Regions from separate parts of the Homo sapiens genome. Here region 1 is linked to region 2. The links come from fine-mapping of genetic effects on gene expression. A gene starts in region 2. The other region holds a variant in brackets. All regions are shown on one strand. Distances are from middle to middle. Region 1 overlaps JAK3 (Janus kinase 3). Region 2 holds the start of JAK3 (Janus kinase 3).

Evidence for each region. PIP is the estimated chance that this variant, and not a neighbour inherited with it, causes the effect.
Region 1: its variant is fine-mapped to the expression of JAK3 in whole blood (TOPMed, PIP above 0.99).

The regions. Positions count from the first base shown.
Region 1 is chr19:17,824,293-17,828,292 of GRCh38, reverse strand. JAK3 (Janus kinase 3) reads left to right here. Exons shown (of 24, transcript NM_000215.4): 24 at 1,383-3,511. The coding sequence ends at 1,550. Among named protein-coding and RNA genes, the nearest start is that of INSL3, 4.8 kb to the right of the region's middle. The variant C/A (reference allele first, on the strand shown) is at 1,998.
Region 2 is chr19:17,845,650-17,850,161 of GRCh38, reverse strand. It overlaps JAK3 (Janus kinase 3), which reads left to right and starts at 2,180. Exons shown (of 24, transcript NM_000215.4): 1 at 2,180-2,216.

The DNA of each region.
Region 1 (4,000 bases), 22 kb after region 2:
CAGAGTGACACCCTGTCTCAAAACAAAACAAAACAAAACAAAACAAAACAAAACAAAACAAAACAAAGACAAAATTATGGTAGTGATAAGTGCCTTGAAAGAGATGAACAGAGGGAAATGGTGGGGTGGGGGTGGTCAAAGAGGGCCTCTTACGGGGCCGACGCTGGAAGGAGGAGGAGCCTACCCATGAGTAAAGCTAGGAGAAGAAATTTCCAGTGGAGGACACGGAAGGGAAAAAGGCCTTGGGGAGGTAATGAGCTGGGTGCCTTTAAGCACCAGTGCGATGGAGGCAGATGTGACTGCCCGGAACAAATGAGGGAAGGAGGGATGGAGATGAGCGAAGGAGGGCATCAGGGAGAGGTGGTGTTTTTTTGTTGTTTTTTTTTTTTTGAGACGTGGTTTTGCTCTTGTTGGCCAGGCTGGAGTGCAATGGCGCAATCTCGGCTCACCACAACTTCCGCCTCCCAGGTTCAAGCAATTCTCCTGCCTTAGACTCCCGAGTAGCTGGGATTACAGGCACACGCCACCTGTAATTTTTTTTTTTTTTTTTTTTTTTTTTTTTTTTTTTTTTTTTTAGTTAAGATGGGGTTTCTCCATGTTGGTCAGGGTAGTCTCGAAAGGAGAAGTGTGTTGTAAAATCCATAAGGGCTGGGCGCGGTGGCTCACACCTGTAATCCCAGCCCTTTAGGAGGCCGAGGTGGGTGGATTACATGAGGTCAGGAGTTCAAGACCAGCCTGACCAACATGGTGAAACCCCGTCTCTACTAAAAATACAGACTTAGCCAGGTGTGGCGGTGTGTGCATGTAATCCCAGCTACTTGGGAGGCTGAGGCAGGAGAATCGCTTGAACCCAGGAGGCAGGGTTTGCAGTGAGCCGAGATCGCACCACTGCATTCCAGCCTGGGCAACAAGAGCGAAACTTTATCTCAAATAAATAAATAAGTAAGATCCATAGGGAGCCATGGGAGTTTTTGGAGCAGAGATGGGATGGAATTTAATTTGTGTTTTAAAACTGAATGAGTGCGGTGGCTCATGCCTATAATCCCAGCACTTTGGGAGGCCAAGACAGGTGGATCACCTGAGATCAGGAATTTGAGACCAACCTGGCCAACATGGTGAAACCCTGTCTCTACTCAAAATACAAAATTAGCCAGGCGTGGTGGCACGTGCCTATAATCCCAGCTACTCAGGAGGCTGAGGCAGGATAATTGCTTGAACCCGGGAGGCGGAGGTTGCAGTGAGCCGAGATCATGCCATTGCACTCCAGCCTGGACAACAGAGCTAGACTCCGTCTCAAAAAAACAAAAACAAATACGCTGAATGGGAGTTGTGTCCTTTGGACTGCTCAGGCACGACCCCATTATCTGTCCCCCGCCCCTCAGGTTCACGAGCTCATGAAGCTGTGCTGGGCCCCTAGCCCACAGGACCGGCCATCATTCAGCGCCCTGGGCCCCCAGCTGGACATGCTGTGGAGCGGAAGCCGGGGGTGTGAGACTCATGCCTTCACTGCTCACCCAGAGGGCAAACACCACTCCCTGTCCTTTTCATAGCTCCTGCCCGCAGACCTCTGGATTAGGTCTCTGTTGACTGGCTGTGTGACCTTAGGCCCGGAGCTGCCCCTCTCTGGGCCTCAGAGGCCTTATGAGGGTCCTCTACTTCAGGAACACCCCCATGACATTGCATTTGGGGGGGCTCCCGTGGCCTGTAGAATAGCCTGTGGCCTTTGCAATTTGTTAAGGTTCAAGACAGATGGGCATATGTGTCAGTGGGGCTCTCTGAGTCCTGGCCCAAAGAAGCAAGGAACCAAATTTAAGACTCTCGCATCTTCCCAACCCCTTAAGCCCTGGCCCCCTGAGTTTCCTTTTCTGTCTCTCTCTTTTTATTTTTTTTATTTTTATTTTTATTTTTGAGACAGAGCCTCGCTCTGTTACCCAGGGTGGAGTGCAGTGGTGCGATCTCGGCTCAGTGCAACCTCTGCTTCCCAGGTTCAAGCGATT[C/A]TCCTGCCTCAGCCTCCCGAGTAGCTGGGATTACAGGTGTGCACCACCACACCCGGCTAATTTTTTTTATTTTTAATAGAGATGAGGTTTCACCATGATGGCCAGGCTGATCTCGAACTCCTAACCTCAAGTGATCCTCCCACCTCAGCCTCCCAAAGTGTTGGAATAATAGGCATGAGCCACTGCACCCAGGCTTTTTTTTTTTTAAATTTATTATTATTATTTTTAAGAGACAGGATCTTGCTACGTTGCCCAGGCTGGTCTTGAACTCCTGGGCTACAGTGATCCTCCTGCCTTATCCTCCTAAATAGCTGGGACTACAGCACCTAGTTTTGAGTTTCCTGTCTTATTTCCAATGGGGACATTCATGTAGCTTTTTTTTTTTTTTTTTTTTTGAGACGGAGTCTCGCTCTGTCGCCCAGGCTGGAGTACAGTGGCGCAATCTAGGCTCACTGCAAGCTCCGCCTCCTGGGTTCACACCATTCTCTCGCCTCAGCCTCCCAAGTAGCTGGGACTACAGGCGCCCGCCACCACACCCGGCTAATTTTTTGTATTTTTAGTAGAGACGGGGTTTCACCTTGTTAGCCAGGATGGTTTCCATCTCCTGACCTCGTGATCTGCCCGTCTCGGCCTCCCAAAGTGCTGGGATTACAGGCATGAGCCACTGCGCCCGGCCCTCATGTAGCTTTAAATGTATGATCTGACTTCTGCTCCCCGATCTCTGTTTCTCTGGAGGAAGCCAAGGACAAGAGCAGTTGCTGTGGCTGGGACTCTGCCTTTTAGGGGAGCCCGTGTATCTCTTTGGGATCCTGAAAGGGGGCAGGAAAGGCTGGGGTCCCAGTCCACCCTAATGGTATCTGAGTGTCCTAGGGCTTCAGTTTTCCCACCTGTCCAATGGGACCCTTTCTGTCCTCACCCTACAAGGGGCACAAAGGGATGACACCAAACCTGGCAGGAACTTTTCACGCAATCAAGGGAAGGAAAGGCATTCCTGGCAGAGGGAACAGCATGCCAAGCGTGAGAAGGCTCAGAGTAAGGAGGTTAAGAGCCCAAGTATTGGAGCCTACAGTTTTGCCCCTTCCATGCAGTGTGACAGTGGGCAAGTTCCTTTCCCTCTCTGGGTCTCAGTTCTGTCCCCTGCAAAATGGTCAGAGCTTACCCCTTGGCTGTGCAGGGTCAACTTTCTGACTGGTGAGAGGGATTCTCATGCAGGTTAAGCTTCTGCTGCTCCTCCTCACCTGCAAAGCTTTTCTGCCACTTTTGCCTCCTTGGAAAACTCTTATCCATCTCTCAAAACTCCAGCTACCACATCCTTGCAGCCTTCCCTCATATACCCCCACTACTACTGTAGCCCTGTCCTTCCCTCCAGCCCCACTCTGGCCCTGGGGCTGGGGAAGTGTCTGTGTCCAGCTGTCTCCCCTGACCTCAGGGTTCCTTGGGGGCTGGGCTGAGGCCTCAGTACAGAGGGGGCTCTGGAAATGTTTGTTGACTGAATAAAGGAATTCAGTGGAAAAGATTTTGTGCTGGACTTGGGGCGATGGGGAGCCTCAGAGGGTGTGTGAGCTGGGAGGGATGCGGTTAGAGCTGTGGGCCAGAGACCTCTCAGGGAGCCACTGTGGGGGCCCCAGGGCAGGCTGGTGGAGGAGGACCACTGGGTGGGGCTTGGCTGGGGCCCTCAAGGACAGAGCCCCCTCACTCCCAGCCCCAGCTGCTGGCCTTGGCTGCAGCCTGGGGGAGCTGATTACAGGCTCTCTGTGGGTGGGGAAGGAACAGGATGCTCTCCCGGTGGTCAGAGGACAAGGCCAGGTTGGGGGAGCGAGGCTGTGGGGAGGGGACCAGCATCACTGGGGCCGGACCACCTCCCCACCGACCGGCCCCCGTCATGTGCACCTCATAACTGCTAGAAAGATGTGGAGAGTGGCCAGGCTCAGTGGCTCACGTCTGTAATCCCAGCACTTTAAGAGGCCAAGGCAGGAGGATCACTTGAGGTCAGGAGTATGAGA
Region 2 (4,512 bases):
CAGTTAAGATCAACAAAATACTTACCAAACCATTTTGTGTTAAGACTTGTGATGGTGATACAGAGATGAAAAGTCTTTTTTTTTTTTTTTTTGAGACGGGATCTCACTCCCATTGCCCAGGCTGGAGTGCAGTGGCATGACCACAGCTAACTGCAGCCTCAACTTCCTGGGCTCAGGTGATCCTCCCACCTCAGCCTCCCCTAGTAGCTGGGACTACAGGCACATGCCACCACATCCAGCTTATTATTTTGTTGTTGTTGTATTTTTTGTAGAGACAGGGTTTCACCATGTTGCCCAGGCTGGTCTCGAACACCTGGGCTCAAGCCATCCTCCTGCCTGAGCCTCCCAAAGTGCTGAGATTACAGGTGTGAGCCACTGTTCTTGGCCACAACTTCTTAAATCTATTCCTTTTTTTTTTTTTGAGACAGAGTATTGCTCCGTCGCCCAGGCTGGAGTGCGGTGGCACAATCTCAGCTCACTACAACCTCCGCCTGCCTCCTGGGTTCCAGTGATTCTCCTGCCTCAGCCTCCCAAGTAGCTGGGATTACAGGCACATGCCACCACGCCCAGCTAATTTTTATATTTTTAGTAGAGATGGGGTTTCACCATGTTGGCCAGGCTGGTCTCGAACTCCTAGGCTCAAGCAATCTTCCCACCTGGGCCTTCCAAAGTGCTGGAATTACAGATGTGAGCCACTGTACCCGGTCACCACTTCGTCAGTCTATTCCTGAAGCTCTACTTCCGGGGCTCTGATCCTATTATCCTAAGAACACTGGCCCAAGTCTCTGCATTTGGATGCTGCCCGGGCCTTCTGCCTCTTCTATTTATAACAGCTCCTACTTCCAACTCTCCTGTGGCTCCAGATTATGCTCCAGGCAAAACCCACCCTTCTCCCAAAGACCCTGATCCCCCTGTCCCCCCACGATCTTGCCCCTGTTGACCGCCCTGCAGTCCCCTTCCCCCTCATCTCACCCCTGCCCCTGGCCTCCTGACTGCTCTTCAAGCTGCTAAGATCACTGCCCTCTCAAGGTCTTTGCCCATCCTGTGCCCTCCTCCTGGAGCACCCTTTCCCTGGCCAGCTCCCTGTCCTGCCTCGGGTCCAAGTTCCAGTCTGTGCCTGTCCTGACACCCTGGCTTTCTTTGTTGTCTGCGATGATTTGGCTCCTTCATTTGCTCATTGTCTCAGCGCCAGATCACAAGTTCCAAGAGGCCAGGCCGGATCCACCTGGTTTTTTAGGGCTGGGCCCAGGGCACCACAGGCAGAAATGGGTCATTATCTCTCCCTGAGTCTTTTCTTTTTTTTTTAAACGAAGTCCCGCTCTGTTGCCAGGCTGGAGTGCAGTGGCGCCATCTCGTCTCACTGTAACATCCGCCTCCTAGATTCAAGCAATCCTCCCACCTCAGCCTCCTGAGTAGCTAGGATTACAGGCATCACCAGGCCTGGCTAATTTTCCTGTTTTTAGTAGAGACAGGGTTTCATCATGTTGGCCAGGCTGGTCTCAAACTCCTGACTTCAAGTGATCCGCCCGCCTCAGCCTCCCAAAGTGCTGCGATTACAGGCCACCACGCCTGGCTAATTTTTGTATTTTTAGTAGAGACGGAGTTTCGCCATGTTGGCTAGGCTGGTCTCAAACTCCTGACCTCAAGTAATCGCCCGCCTCAGTCTCCCAAAGTGCTGGGATGACAGGCGTGAGCCACTGCGCCCAGCGTCTCCCTGAGTCTTAAGGGAGAAATACCTCAAAGAAGAACTTGACCTTCCTCTGGGGCAACTTCCCTGCTTCCCTCCTGGGCAAATCCAGCCAGGTTTCCTTCCCTGGGTGCAAAATTAGTTCCACTGGGTGCCCAACTCACACATGCTACAGATGGGTAAACTGAGGCAATAAGGGCCGGGCCAGAGCCCCACTTAACAAGTGGGTCTAGAGTCGGCTGAGCCCCTGGTGTGACCCAGACCCTTCTCTGTGCTATCATCAGTTCCTTTGGCTTAGGGGTCTCCAGCAGCCTGTCTGAACGGGGCGGCTGATGCAGAGGCTTCCGGAACTTTCTGCCCCTCCTTGCCCGCCTCCCCGCCCCCAGCTCCCGCAGGGCCCTGACTTTCGGTAAATGACAGTGGCTCAGGAAACCAAGGGGCCCACACAGGAAGGAGCCGAGTGGGACTTTCCTCTCGCTGCCTCCCGGCTCTGCCCGCCCTTCGAAAGTCCAGGGTCCCTGCCCGCTAGGTAAGAGCTGGCGATGCCGCAGGGCTCGGCCCAGACACTGGGGGAGGATGGTGGTGGCGGGGGATGGCTGGGCTGGGGCAGGGTGCTGCCAGGGCAAAGGCTAGCTCGCCTTCCAGGCCTCGGAGGAAAGCTGCGAGGCAGACGTGAGCCGAGACTCGCATCCTCCGATCGCTCGCTTCTCTGGGCTTCGGCTTTGACTAAGGCCGGGAGATGCCTGCCTTGCGGACCTGGAGGAGTCATTGCGCATGCGCGACGGGGGCTGCGGGGTTGGGGGTGGGGAGGAGGGATTGGGAAGGAGGGATTGGGGGGCGGAGTTCCCAGCCCCTACCCTCCAGGCCTTCCCGGTCCAGACACAGGGTACCCGACCATACCAGGATGCAGAACGTTGAGGATTATAAACAGGGGATGCCGAGGCGGGAGGATAGCTTGAGGCCAGGAGTTCAAGGCCAGCCTGGGCAACATAGCCAGACCTCCATTTCTACAAACATTTTTAAAAAACCAAAAAAACTATGGCGTTTTCTGGGACCAAACATCACCTCTGACTTTTCATTTTTTTTTGTTACAGTATTACAGAATAATAATATTCTGTTAAGATTTTTTTGTTGTTTTGGAGATGGGAGTCTTGCTATGTTGTTCAGGCAGGTCTCTAACCCCTGGCCTCAAGCTATCCTGCTGCCTCAGCCCCCTGAGTAGCTGGGATTGCAGTGGGGCGCCACTGCCACTGAAGCCTTATTTTAAACTCGACTGGGGCTGGGCACAGTGGCTCATGCCTTTAATCCCAACACTTTGGGAGGCTGAGGCCAGCGGATCACTGGAGGTCAGGAGTTCGAGATCAGCCTGGTCAACATGGTGAAACCCTATCTCTACTAAAAACACAAAAATTAGCCAGGTTTGGTGGCGGGTGCCTGTAATTCCAGCTACTCAGGAGGCTGAGGCAGGAGAATCGCTTGAACCTGGGAGGTGGAGTTTGCAGTGAGCCGAGATCATGCCACTGCACTCCAGCCTGGGAGACAGAACAAGAATCCGTCCTCCCCCCTACAAAATAAATAAATAAATAAAAAGGCTGGGCAATGTGGCTCACGTGTGTAATCACAGCACTTTGGGAGGCCAAGGCAGGCGAATCACCTGAGGCCAGGAGTTTGAGACCAGCCTGGCCAACATGGTGAAACTCCGTCTCTACTAAAAATACAAAAATTAGCTGGGCGCTGTGGTGCGCGCCTGTAATCCCAGCCACTTGGGAAGCTGAGGCATGAGAATCGCTTGAACCCAGGAGGCAGAGGCTACAGTGAGCCAAGATCGTGCGACTGCACTCCAGCCTGGGTGACAGTGCGAGACTCCGTCTCAAAAAAACAAACAAACAAACCAAAAAACTTGATTGGCTGATGTTGAGGGGACGATAGAGAGGCTATGGTGTGTGATTTTATTTCTATAAAGGGCAAAACTAGACATCAATCTCTCTGTGGGAGAGATGGGGCTCCTCCAAGGTTCCCGGGACTAGGAATGTGCTCATTCTTGGTCTGGGCATCGGTGACATCAAAGTGTCCCTTTGGTAAGGTTCTTTCCCCCACAAGACTTCCCTTCCCACAGTAACCACCACACCGCTGTGCCAATTGCCCTTCCTGTTTGGTTTAACAGGCGTTTGTTGATCGCTTACCGGCACATCATCAAGAAATATACAAATTAATGCACATTAATTGAGTTGACACTTTAGGCCTGGATTGCGCTCAGCAGACCACCTCAATGAGGATGCTGGGGAGTCAGCCCATTTCACAGCTGCGAAAGCTGAGTCCTAGGGGTCCTAGTCCTCTGATTGTCTTAAACCTCATTAGGCCAGGCGCAGTTTCTCACGCCGGTAATCCCAGCACTTTGGGAGTCCGAGGCAGGAGGATCACTCGAGGTCAGGAGTTCCAGACCAGCCTCGCCAACATGGTGAAACCCCGTCTCTACCAAAAATACAAAAATTAGCCGGGCATGGTGGCGTGCCCCTGTAATCCCAGCTACTTGGGAGGCTGAGGCAGGAGAATCACTTGAACCCAGGATGCAGAGTAAGCCGAGATTGTGCCACTGCACTCCAGCCTGGATGACAGAGCTAGACTCTGTCTCAAAACAAAAACAAAAAAACCCTCATTAATGCCGCCCCACCCCAGCCACAGGGCATTATTTTGGATCATAGTTTTTGTATTGTGTTTTTTTTCTAGAGATAAGGTCTTGCTCTGTCGCCCAGGCTGGAGTGCAGTGGTGTGATCATAGCTCAATGCAGCCTCAACTTGCAGAGCTGAAGGCATCCTCCTGTCTC